Linked DNA regions of Homo sapiens. The protein of the gene in region 3 purifies or fractionates together with the protein of the main gene of each other region. This does not show direct contact. Each region holds a gene or a part of one and is shown on either strand. Other genes may lie near its edges.

The links. The genes of interacting proteins can lie anywhere in the genome.
Region 1: the proteins of SCARB1 (region 3) and DIPK1A purify together in Homo sapiens (co-immunoprecipitation; one large-scale study listed by IntAct). This does not show direct contact.
Region 2: the proteins of SCARB1 (region 3) and PRMT2 purify together in Homo sapiens (pull-down; one study listed by IntAct). This does not show direct contact.
Region 4: the proteins of SCARB1 (region 3) and TMEM87B fractionate together in Homo sapiens (co-fractionation; one large-scale study listed by BioGRID). This does not show direct contact.

Annotation. Positions count from the first base shown.
Region 1 is NC_000001.11:92,844,065-92,846,462, forward strand, and holds part of DIPK1A (divergent protein kinase domain 1A), read right to left. Parts: intron 2,119-2,398; exon of another isoform or gene 1,995-2,118; intron 132-1,994; coding exon 1-131.
Region 2 is NC_000021.9:46,649,174-46,652,673, reverse strand, and holds part of PRMT2 (protein arginine N-methyltransferase 2), read right to left. Parts: intron 3,100-3,500; coding exon 2,935-3,099; intron 869-2,934; coding exon of another isoform or gene 668-868; exon of another isoform or gene 1-667. UniProt on the Homo sapiens protein: Arginine methyltransferase that methylates the guanidino nitrogens of arginyl residues in proteins such as STAT3, FBL, histone H4. Acts as a coactivator (with NCOA2) of the androgen receptor (AR)-mediated transactivation.
Region 3 is NC_000012.12:124,780,365-124,783,864, reverse strand, and holds part of SCARB1 (scavenger receptor class B member 1), read left to right. Parts: intron 1-1,053; coding exon 1,054-1,182; exon of another isoform or gene 1,183-1,193; intron 1,194-3,163; exon of another isoform or gene 3,164-3,266; intron 3,267-3,500. UniProt on the Homo sapiens protein: Receptor for different ligands such as phospholipids, cholesterol ester, lipoproteins, phosphatidylserine and apoptotic cells. Receptor for HDL, mediating selective uptake of cholesteryl ether and HDL-dependent cholesterol efflux.
Region 4 is NC_000002.12:112,079,269-112,082,768, forward strand, and holds part of TMEM87B (transmembrane protein 87B isoform 1 precursor), read left to right. Parts: intron 1-1,788; coding exon 1,789-1,850; intron 1,851-2,066; coding exon 2,067-2,250; intron 2,251-3,500. UniProt on the Homo sapiens protein: May be involved in retrograde transport from endosomes to the trans-Golgi network (TGN).

The sequences.
Region 1 (2,398 bases), on a different chromosome or scaffold from region 3:
TCATTCAGTTGAAGAAGTGCCCATGCCGACTTTGCTTCTCCCAAGGAAACCTGGCCATCTTTGTCTCCATCAGCCACCGTCAAGATGAGATTAACCAGTTCAGAGAGGTTTCCTTGGTCACCCAATTTTGCCTGTCAAGAATTTGGCTAGTTACACAGAAGGAATGAAAAATACCTCCCATGCAACATACTAAGTTTCTTTACGGGCATTATTAACCATGCCAGAAATAATCTTGGTACTGAATCCCCAAACAGGAACTTAATGTATTATATCTCCAAATATTTATGATACTTCCTAAGTGAACTAGAACCATGCTTTATGTAACTGCAGTAAAACCCACTTTAAAATACTTGTCTGTTTGTTAGGAAATGGCCACTAACTCCCCTGTCCCCTTCAGGCCCCTTAGATAGTTAACCAACAATGTAATTATTCCTCATTCATACATTAAAAAACCACCGCCTCATATGTGGACTTGAAAAATTGTACTGTAATGTACTTACATCAAAGTTACAATAAGGGTCAACTAAAAATTATTTTCCTTTTTTTAGAGATGGGGATCTCACTATGTTGCCCAGGCTGGTCTCAAACTCCTGGGCTCAGGTGATCCTCCTACCTCAGCCTCCCAAAGTGCTCGGATTACAGGCATGAGCCAGCATGCCTGGCCTAATTATTTTATCCTATTTTGTATTTATCACAATAATTATTTTGTTCAAATAGTAGTATTACAATAATGAAGATTAAAAAGTATTTCCGTTAGTCTGAAATACATGTAAAATGGCCAAATAAAAAATTTGAGTGAAAATAAAAGAGCAATGAAAATAAAACTTTTTTCTAAAACTTTGTTTTATTTCTATTTAATCTATATATTAGTATTTCTTTTTTTTTTTTTTTTTTTTTTGAGACGGAGTCTCGCTCTTTCGCCCAGGCTGGAGTGCAGTGGCGCGATCTCAGCTCACTGCAAGCTCCACCTCCCAGGTTCACGCCATTCTCCTGCCTCACCCTCCCGAGCAGCTGGGACTACAGGCGCCTGCCACCACGCCCAGCTAATTTTTTTTTGTATTTTTAGTAGAGACGGGGTTTCACCATGTTAGCCAGGATGGTCTCGATCTCCTGACCTTGTGATCCATCCGTCTCGGCTTCCCAAAGTGCTGGGATTACAGGCGTGAGCCACCGCGCCCGGCCTATATTGGTATTCCTTTAAATTAAAAAAATAATTTGCAGAGTACCGTTTTTTTTTTTTTTTTTTTTGCATAGGAAGAACTGCTATGCTTTTTTTCCCGTTAGTTTTAGTGACATGTAATAACTACAAATTTATGGGATACTGATGGGCACAATTGCTCAAGCCAGTAATTCCAGCACTTTGGGAAGCCAAGGTGGGCAGATAGCTTGAGCTCAGGAGTTCTAGACCCGCCTGGGCAACATGGTGAAACCGTGTCTATGCTAGAAAAAAAAAAAAAAAAAAAAACCGTCTCTGCTGAAAAAAAAAAAAAAATGCTGGATGCGGTGGCTCACGCCTGTAATCCCAGCGCTTTGGGAGGCTGAGGCGGGTGGATCACCATGAGGTCAGGAGTTCGAGACCAGCCTGGCCAAAATAGTGAAATCCCATCTCTACTAAAAATACAAAAATTAGGTGTGGTGGCGGGTGCCTGTAATCCCAGCTACTCGGGAGGCTGAGGCAGGAGAACTGCTTGAATCTGGGAGGCAAGGTTGCAGTGAGCTGAGACCATGCCACTGCACTCCAGCCTGGGCAACAGAGCGAGACTCCGTCTAAAAAAAAAAAAAATTAGCCAGGTGCGGTGGTGCGCCTGTGATCCCAGCTACTTGGGGGGCTGAGGCAGGAGGATGGCTTAAACCCAGGAGGCTGAGGCTGCAATGAGCCGAGATCATGCCACTGCACACTCCAGCTTGGGCACCAGGGCAAGACCCTGCCAAAACAAAACAAAACAAATAACCAACCATCTTTTAAAAAAAGAAAGAAAGAAAAAAAATCCCCAGGCCTCCTGGTGCTTACCCCAGGCTGTGTTCTTATACTGACTGTATAGAATGAGGAGGTGAACTCCCATGTACACCTCAGCCCAGGCCCTGCGCCTTGTCTGTATTGTGAACGGGAGCACACAGAAAAAAAATTCATGGGATACATAGTGATATTTCAATACACACATACAATTTGTAATGATCAAATCAAGGTAATTAGCATATTTATGTCTCAGTTATCATTGTGTTGTGAACATTCACAATCCTTTTAGTTTTTTGAAAATAACCAAAAATTATTAATCCCTTTACCCTATAGTGCTATAGAACACTAGAACTTATTCTGCCTATCTAGCGGTAATTTTGTATCTGTTAACCAACCTCTCCTTATTCTCCTCTCCTCTGTACCCTTCCCAGCCTCTAATAG
Region 2 (3,500 bases), on a different chromosome or scaffold from region 3:
CTATTTTCCTTCAAAAGGCTTTACCAATTTACACTGCCAAAAAAAGGGCATGGCGGTGCACACTTCCCCACAACCTCAGCATCGGGAGCATCAGATATTAGAGGATTGCTCAGCCAACTTCCCAGGTCAAAACTATTACAGTTACTTTCAAATTGTTGGTGGCATTGAACAACGTTCAAGCTCCTGGCCTCTGGCATTTCTCTGCCTTTCTAGTCCCTGCTCACCTTCCATGAGGTTACCTTTATCTTATGCTTTTCTTATTGCAACTCTTTACGTCACACAATTCTTTAGCTGCAATTCTTTAGTTGCATTTACCATTTAATAGTTTTTAGCTGTGCTAATGTATGAAGGGGAATTTTTTGTCAAGTATTTTATTTGACAGCTTCATTATGAACTTGGTTCTTAGAAAAACCTTTCCCATCCTAACAACAAATAAACTTGTAGCAATTTTTTTGTTTCCTCCTTTTCTTAAATATTTAACTCTTGAGCCCATCTGAGGTTTATTTTAGCAGATGGTGTGAAGAAGGGCCTCTTTTCTCCAAATCAGTCGTTCCAGCACCATCTCTGAACAACTACATGCCCTTGCTGCACTGACTGAAAGCTGCCCCTCCTATGCTAAACGCACATGCACTCTTCTCTGTCTTCAGACTTTTACTACATGTCAGCGTCAGAGTAGGAAGATGGGCCAGGAGAGATGAAGGCCTGAGGGCTGAGGGGCTCTGAGAACAGGCAGACAGCAGGCAAGGAGGACATGAAGAGGGACAGACGCACAGGTGCAGGGGAGAGGCAGACAGCAGGCCAGGAGGACGTGAAGAGGGCCAGACGCACAGGTGCAGGGGAGAATGCGGCAGCTCAGGAGAGGCGCAGCCTGGGGACGGAAAGTGAAGGTGGGTACAACCGCACCAACGACTCCCAGATTCATACCCTCCCTCCCTCAAATCCGACCAACCCTGTGCCCCAACAACTATCGCCATAGGAACTCTTGCAGCCCCGTCTGCCCTGTTCTGGGCCTCCTTGGCCTGAGTAATGATGGTGGTGGTCCCTCAGTCTCCCTGGGGGGGAGTCTGAAGTCGGAACTGCCTCAAGCCCTCACCTGCAAAGCTCCGCCTTCCCCCTCCACTGCCTGCACTGGAGAAAACCACCACATGGTCCTGTCTGACTCACCCCAGCACTCCTCCAAATGTCCTGCTCAGGGTGGCCCCTCCAGGCCATCGCCCACCGAGACCCCAGGCCATGTCCCCACTGCCCAACCAATAGCTGGCCCTGCACATCGGATGGGCATCCTATGTTCAAGACCCACACAGATGTCCACCCTCCCCAGGGCCCTCCCTACCCCGGCCCCCAGCCAGTCCTGGTGGCCCACTCCCTGCGGCTCAGGGCTGGGAGGCACCGTCCTGCTCACGCCAGGCCCCCATCAGCACATCCTGCCTGCTGGCCCTGCTCTGCATCCCCCACACCTGCCCCATGCCAAGCCCTGGCTCCTGCATCCTGACAATAAAGCCATGGTCAGTCCTGGAAGTCTGTGCACCTCCCACACAGAGGGGCCTCCCCTCACACAGAATGTCCCAGGCCTCTCTGCATGCTGGGGCTGGACCACAGCCAGTCCCTGGCCTCCAGTCCCGGCCACACATACCCAGGGGCCTCCAAAACACAGCCCACCTCTTACTCCATCACTCACACACCAGTGGCACTCCCTTCGGTGTCCAGGACGTGGCACAAAGTCCTCAGACACACAGTTCCCTACATCTGGCCTCTGCCTCCCTGATGCAACACAGTCTGGCCAATCCGGCCACTGGGCAGCCCTGGAACACGGCAACACGGTGAACACAGTGGCTACTCCTCTCCCCTCCCTCTGCCCCACGTCCCTCCTGTGTCCCTCTCACCCAATCCAGGGCACAGCCGGACACTCCAGCAGCCAGGCTTCCCCGTATCACCGCCCACACAACCTTGGCCTCACCACAGCCTCACTCCTGCTCTGTCCTCTTTTTGTCCCCGTGGCCGGGGCACCAGCTGTCAACAGATACTTATTGAATGGGCGCTGCTGTTCAGGGCAAAGGCAAATGCCCCTTCAGGGGGTAGGAGTGGAGCCCGTTTCTCCTGTGTGTCATCTTATGGCTCCACAGATGTTATTAATAAGCCAAGTCACAGCATGGACATTGAGTCTATTTACATTTATCTTCTGACAACAAAATTTCAACAGGACTAAAAGCCCAATGCCATCTGTTACCAGGGGAAACCGTTTCCTGGAAAGCAGCAGCCATACTCCACACTCCTTCACCCAGACCCCATCTTTCTGGGTCTCTACACTGAGACAAAGTTTCAGGTTGGGATGCTCCACTACAATGTCCTGTGTCCCAGGATGCTGAGCCCAGGAAGACAGCGCGGGCAGACAGCATCCAGCCACACTCCCGTCAACTTCCCTCCAAGCAGACAGCGTTTGTGCAGGGCATATTCACAGGCAACCAGAAAACAGTCCACTTCCACCCACATGTGAAACTCAGGGTGAGCAACCCTGACAGGACAGGCATATGCTGGCCCTACAGATGCCCAAGTGGCTTCACAGCATCACTGGGGCCAGTCTAAGGCGAGGAGACCCTGGCCAGGGACGAAGGCCCTACTGGCATTAAAGAAACAGCCTTACCTGTTAGGCACAGGATTTTTACAGATCCCCGAGGAGAACACAGTTCATGTAAATCACTCATGAAAATGTTACATGAACTTTGACTTAAATTTCTCATAAAGGCATTTTTTAAATCAGGTGAAAATTCAAGACACTGAGCCAATGTCCACACAAGAAATTAATTAGACCTCACATTAGGGAAAACATCAAAATGAATCACGCACGACCCTTGAGATCCTGAGGTTGGCCCAGCCGAGCCCGTGCTCAGAAGCCCCCCAGCTCCGGCCCCCAGCTGCCCGCACGCCCGCCCTCACCAGCAGGCAGGTCCCCATCCACTCAGACACCAGCACGTCCACCTTCTCGGGCAGCACCACATCCTCCACCTTCTGCTGGTACACGGTGATGATGTCAGCAAAGCCGTTCTGCAGGACCAGCTGCCCCGTGTGCTGTGCCATCTCACTGGCCTCCACCGCGTACACCTGCAGCAGCAGAGGCACCGTCAGCGTACATCCGGCCGGCACACGGCCCGTCATCTACTCTCCTGAGTCACAACCAGCATCACGAGAAATGGTCAATGACACAAGAGGGAAGCAGCATTCCAGACAGCAGAGGCAGCGAGGACTGGCCACACCTGCCCCTCCAGGGGCACCCAGAAAGGAGCCGCCTCTAACCCTCCCAACTGCCCCCACCTCCCGGACAAGACACAGACGCAGGGCTGCAAGTGGATGGAAGACTCGCATGCCCGAGCCGGCTGCCACACGCACAGCAATCTTAATCCATGACCAGCACAGCAACTTCTTAGCACCCAAGTGACAATGCTGGTCTGTGCCACATCTGAGGCCTGTCAGACAATTTCAAACCCAGGTTCTCAGGGAAGGGT
Region 3 (3,500 bases):
TTATCCCATTATGTGTGTTTTGATGTAGCAGGACCTTACCAGTTTTTTTTGTTTTTTTATTTTTATTTTTTTTGGTTTCTTTTTTGAGATGGAGTCTTGCTGTGTTGCCCAGGCTGGAGTGCAGTGGCACAATCTTGGCTCACTGCAACCTCCACCTCCCGGGTTCAAGTGGGAGCCTCAGCCTCAGCCTCAGCCTCAGCCTCCCGAGCAGTTGGGATTACAGGCACCTGCCACCATGCCTGGCTAATTTTTGTATATTGAGTAGAGGCGGGGTTTCACCATGTTGGCCAGGCTGGTCTTGAACTCCTGACCTCATGATCTGCCGCCTTGGCCTCCCAAAGTTCTGGGATTACAGGTGTGAGCCACTGTGCCTGGCCGGCCTTATCAGTTTTTATGTAATTTGTCCTGATTTAAAAAAAAAAAATCACATGCGGGTAAACTCAACATATTTTAATTTCTCTTTAGAGAAATTTTCCACTTGAGCCAGGTATGGTGGCTCTTGCCTGTAATCTGAGCTACTCGGGAGGTTGAGGTGGGAGGATCACTTGAGCCCAGGAGTTGGAGGCTGCAGTGAGCCATGATCGCACCATTGCACTCCAGCCTGGACAACAGAGTGAGATCCTGTCTCAAAAATTAAAAAAAGCAGTAATTTTTTCTTCTCAAGTCATTCTTTTAAAATAAATCAAAAGTATTTTAACAGAACAATCTGTTCCTCGTTGATTTTAAACAGCCCCCCAGCTAAGTCCACTGGTTGTCGGTCTCCATGGCCCATCTCCCCACCTTGCTTCCTCGCTGGCTTAAATTTTCAAGTGGACGAGCCCTTTTCAGCTTGGCTTGTCCACCTCCCAGGTGTGTTTCCTGAAGATGCTTGTACTTATGTCTAAGAGCGGCAGCTCCCCACATCTCAGCCACCTGCAATCGTTGAGGGTTGTTGGACTCTAAACTTATGTGCCTTTCCTGTTTCCTCTTTGCCTTTTGCAAATTGAAGAACCGTGTAAAACCATTTTTATGTGGCTTCAACGTCAACTATAAATTAGCTTGGTTATCTTCTAGGAGAAATGCTATTTATTTTGGAGTAGTAGTAAAAAGGGCTCAAAGGATAAGGAGGCCATTCAGGCCTATTCTGAATCCCTGATGACATCAGCTCCCAAGGGCTCTGTGCTGCAGGAAGCAAAACTGTAGGTGGGTACCAGGTAATGCCGTGCGCCTCCCCGCCCCCTCCCATATCAAGTAGAATGCTGGCGGCTTAAAACATTTGGGGTCCTGCTCATTCCTTCAGCCTCAACTTCACCTGGAGTGTCTACAGACTGAAGATGCATATTTGTGTATTTTGCTTTTGGAGAAACTGCCCTTCCTATGTTCTGAGTGAATAGCAGTTTTTTTGATCCCAGAGGGCAACTTGTATTCTGTGGGCTGGTGCCTATTTGCAAGGTCACATTAGAAAGACAGGAGCAAGGCTTAGGCCTGCTGCTTCTGGAATCTCTTGTGCAATAGACTCCCCTGGGGAAGTCTGCTAGAAATGCAGATCCCTGGGCAGCCTTCTAGCCTTCTGGAATAGGATCATGGTGGGACCCTGGAATCTGTATTTTAATGGACCCTAATGAGATTCTGATGTAGAAACATGTTTGAGAGGCATTGATCTAAATCTGGGATGACTGGCCAGGTGCGGTGGCTCACACCTGTAATCCAGCACTTTGGGAGGCCGAAGCAGGTGGATCATTTGAGGTCAGGAGTTCAAGACCAGCCTGGCCAACATGGTGAAAACCTGTCTCTACTAAAAATACAAAAAAAATTAGCTGGGTGTGGTGGCACACGCTTGTAATCCCAGCTACTCAGGAGGCTGAGGCAGGAGAATCGCTTGAACCCGGGAGATGGAGGTTGCAGTGAGCCAAGATCGTGCCACTGCACTCCAGCCTGGGTGACAGAGTGAGACTCCGTCTCAAAAAAATAAAACTAAAATAAATAAATAAATAAATACATCTGGGATGACTGACCAAGAACAAAGAATGTAGGCATCAACTGAACACCAACTGTATACCTGGGACTGGATCTGAGGGTAGGATTGCCAGATTGAGCACAAACAAACAAACGAAACACAAGAAACAACAGAAGGGTGCCTGTTAAATATGAATTTCTGGTAAGCAATAAGTAATTTTTATTGTGTTCCTGTGCAATGATAGGACGCACGTATCCTGAAAACCTGTCTGTAGTTCACCTGAAATTCACATTTAACTAGGCGTTCTGATTTTATGTGGCCGCCCTATCTGCTGGGAACATAGGCTGATGCCCCTGGGGGTTCTGCGTTTCCTTGGCCAGGTTCCTGTAGGGCTGAGGTCATGGGGGAGCCGTGGCCAGGGATGGTGTCCTTGCCAGGGGAGGTGACGGGCAGAGCTGCAGGCCCTACAACTTGGGGTTGGGCAGGGATGAGTCGCTCTACCGTGGTGCCTCTGATAATAGCTGTTATTTTAGTTTCTGAAAAATGTGCTGCCCTCAAGAGCTTCTGAGGCTAGGCCTACTTGGGTGAAAATAGCTTTCCAGGGAGCCACATTGTGGGGACGTGAGGCAGCAGCCCCACTCTTTGGGGCCACTTGGCTGTCTCTAACTCATCTCACTTGCCAGGGCTGGACAAGGAGATGAAAAAGAAAATGCCAAGGGGTGGGCAGGCAGGAGCCTGTTGGCGTTGGCAGGCGCTGCCAGCCCTGTGTCCCAGTCAAGCTCTGGGGCGCCCTTCCTGTCCATCTGGGAGTAGGGGGTGGAGTCTGACCATGTTGGGGTGGAGTGTTAATATTAGGAGAGGATCCTCCCTGGGACAGGGTCCCCAGGCTTGGGGGCAAGGCCTTCTGCCTGGACCCCCTTCCTTTCCTCTCTCCCAGGATTCCTCCAGGACACCGTAGTGCTGTGCACGGTTTGGCCCCATCGGTGTGCCTGCTCCTTCCAGCCACTGCTCCCTTCTGCAGAAACTTGCCTGGGATTCCCAGGGTGCAGGGGTGGGGGCTGGTCAGGGGCTGGTCAGGGCCTGGTCAGTGTAGAGCAGGGAGCTTTTCACTTTTAGCATAGATAGAGTGGCCAGGGCCCCATGGCTGCACCTCCCTGGACATAACCAGGATGTCCTGTCATCTGCCCCCCAAACAAAACTGGGGTCTCCCCTTTATTTTGCCAACAGAATCCAATTTTTAGGTGATGAGACAAGTGTTTGACTTGAAAAGACCCTCCTGCCCTGCCTCCTGGAAGGTCTGGAGCCCAGCCCAGCGCCCCGGATCCCCTAGGCATGTGAAACGGGGAATGCAGTGTCCTCCAGTGGCTGGCTGCAGCTTGGGGTGGGCACCTGGGTGGTGGCTGGTGGTCCCCCTGCAGGCCACTGCTGCCCCCTCTTGGGTCCTGTTCTGAGTCTCAGGCCTGAGTCCCTGGGGAAGGCCCCACACCTTTGCCCTGTACCTGGGTATGGGGATGGCCCTGAGGGGCTGCCTTGCTTGGGAGAAGGGGGGAAAACAGATATTTTT
Region 4 (3,500 bases), on a different chromosome or scaffold from region 3:
ATGCCTCCTACCTCCCAGCCTCTGTACCCACCATTCTGCTCTCGTATTAGGAGTTCAATTGTTTTAGATTCCACATATAAGTGAAAATGTGCAGTATTTGTCTTTCTGTGCTTGACTCATTTCACTCAGCACAGTGTTTTCCAGTTCCATCCATGTTGTTGCAAATGACAGAATTTTCTTCTTTTTAAAGGCTGAATAGTATTTCATTGTGTATATATACACATTTTCTTCATCCATTCATCTGTTGATGGACACTTACCTTGATTCCATAACTTAGCTATTGTTCATACTGCTGCAGTGAACATGGGGGTGCAGACAGCTCTTTGACAAACTGATTTTAGATCTTTTGGGTAAATAGTAAAGTGGGATTACTGGATTATATGGTAATTCTGTTTTTAGTTTTTTGAGGACCTTCCATACTGTTTTTTATAATGGCTGTACTAATTGACATTTTCACAAAGCATCCCTTTTCTCCACATCTTCATCAGCACTTACTCTCTTTCATCTTTTTGATAAAAGCCATTCTGACAGGTGTGAAATGATATTGGGGTTTTAATTTGCATTTCTCTAATGACTAGTGATGTTGAGCATTTTTCATGTATTAATATCTTTTGCTCATTTATATGTTTTCTTTTGAGAAACATCTAGGTCCCTTGCCTTTTTTTTTTTTTTTTTTTTTGAGACAGGAGTTCGCTCTGTCACCCAGGCTGGAGTGCGGTGGCACGATCTCGGCTCACTGCAACCTCCACCTCCTGGGTTCAAGTGATTCTCCTGCCTCTGCTTCCCAAGTAGCTGGGATTATAGGTGCACGCCACCCCACCTGGCTAATTTTTCTGTTTTTATTAGAGACGGGTTTCACCATGTTGGTCAGGCTGGTCTCGATCCCCTGACCTTAAGTGATCTGCCCACCTTGGCCTCCCAAAGTGCTGGGATTACAGGTGTGAGCTGTAACGCCCAGCCCCTTGCCCATTCTTTTTTTTTTAATTTTTTTTATCTTTTTTTATTTTTTGAGACGGAGTCTTGCTCTGTCGCCCAGGCTGGAGTGCAGTGGCGTGATCTCGGCTCACTGCAAGCTCCACCTCCTGGGTTCACGCCATTCTCCTGCCTCGGCCTCCCGAGTAGCTGGGACTACAGGTGCTCGCCACCACGCCCGGCTAATTTTTTGTATTTTTAGTAGAGACGGTGTTTCACCGTGTTAGCCAGGATGGTCTCGATCTCCTGACCTCGTAATCCGCCCGCCTTGGCCTCCCAAAGTGCTGGGATTACAGGGGTGAGCCACCACGCCCGGCCTGCCCATTCTTTTAATTGGGTTTTTTGTTTTCTTGCTATTGAGTTGTTTGAGCTTATGTATTTTGGATATTAACTCCTTCTTGGATATATGGCTTGCTAATTTTATCTCCCAGTACCTAAGTTGTCTATGTCTACTGTTAATTGTTTCCTTTGTGCAAAGAAGCTTTTTATATTGATGTAATCCCATTTGTCTATTTTTGCTTTTGTTGCCCGTGCTTTTGGGATCAAATCCAAAAAATCATTGCTCAGACCAGTGTTATGTAGTGTTCTCCCTATGTTTTCTTCTAGCAGTTTTACAGTTTCTGGTCTTACAGTAAAGGTATCTTGGTAAGGTTACATAATCAAACAAATACTAATTGTCCAATACCATGTATGTGCTACATACAAATTCAGCATTTGTTAGTGTGGTTTGTATTCTTGGAGCCTTCTGGGAAATGAACTTACATTTAAAGATTTAAGACTGACTGTTAATTAACTCTCTCTTCTTCTCTATCCTAGTTTCTCTTTCTATGATTGGGCCTCATGGATATATCTCTGCATCAGATTGGCCCCTAATGATTGTGAGTATTTCTCATCATTTTTTCCTTTTTAAAAAATGAATTTTATACCCTAAGAGCTTTGTGGTAGTAATTCCTCAGTAGTTAATGCTTTGACATATCCTGTATTTCTGGTTCCAGAGTGACTGGAAAATGAAGGGTTGGATACTTGAATGTAGAAGTGCCAACTTTCAAATGACCAAAAGGCTTAACTGACTAAAATTGCTTCTCTTCCTACAGTTTTACATGGTGATGTGTATTGTTTATATATTATATGGCATACTCTGGCTGACGTGGTCTGCCTGTTATTGGAAAGATATATTAAGAATCCAGTTCTGGATTGCAGCTGTTATTTTTTTGGGAATGCTTGAAAAAGCAGTTTTTTATAGTGAATACCAAAACATCAGCAACACTGGACTGTCAAGTAAGTTTTGACTGTCTCTGTAAATATAGTATGATCTAAGAGTTCCCCAGTATTTATGAGCAGAGCAGTGGGAGGCCCCCTTCTGAACAGTGGTTTGGAAACAGATATATTATAGATGAAGAGAAGGAAAGCCAAGGAAAGAATGTCAGAGTAGGCCTCTGATCTGGCCAAGCATGTGTCTTCTCTTCATTATCTGTTTTCCTTCTTGCTAAATTTCCCCTCACTTTCCTCCTGGGAAAAATAAAAGTCCCGTTTCCTAAGGTTCAGCTTGGATTAAAACAGCACAAAGTTCGGGACAGGGAGACTTCAGGTGCTGTCAATCCTTTTAACATACTTCTCCTTCCCCCCACATCTTCTTTTCTTTCTCCTTCTCCTTCAAAAAACGAAAGGAAATTGGCCGCAGGGAGTAAAATCAGGGGTGCTGGAAGGGATGGTGCCTGCAGCCTCCTTGTGCTCTCCCCACCTCTTTACTCCCACAAAGATCTTCATATAACCAGTGGAGGCACCATCACAGTTTACGCAGTGGAATATGTGAAGCAGGCAGGCCATACAGCTGGGCATCCTCAGATGTGTGCCCCAGACTTCTAGAAAGTGGATTTCAGGCCAGAGAAGTAAAGGTACAACTCTCCCACCAAAGCTTTGGAAAGAGAGAGCTCAGAGAGGTTGAAGGTGCTCAAGAGTGTACTTCTGAGTGACCAGTTACAAATGATCTTGGTGCAGATCTTCAAAGGGCATGATTTTGTCTGTTATTGATTGATTGACAAGGTCTTGATCTGTTGCCCGGTCTAGAGTGCAGTGGTGCGATTTTTGCTCACTGCAGCCTCGACCTCCAGGCCCAAATGATCTGCCCACCTCAGCCTCTGGAGTAGCTGGCACTATGTGTCTGTTACTTATTTTGAAATACTCTAGAAAAAAAATGAATTGGACTATAGATGAAACAAATTTGGCGTAACGTTGCTAATTATTGAAGCTGCATGATGGGCACAAGGGAAATCATTATATTGCTTTCTCTCTTTTTGGGAGTATTTGAAATTTCCCCAAATAAAAAGTTTAAAAGGACATGTACCAAAGAATAAAGAAAGGACAAACATCCAGGATGCATATTAGAGATATCACTACTCTGTAAGAAGTTTTTTATGGTGTGTGTGTGTGTGTGTGCGTGTGCGTGTGCGTGCATGTGTGCTCTAAACCAGATGATGAAGGAAGGGTAGATCTGCTGCTTAGAATTGAAGCATTCCTGAATGTAGAGA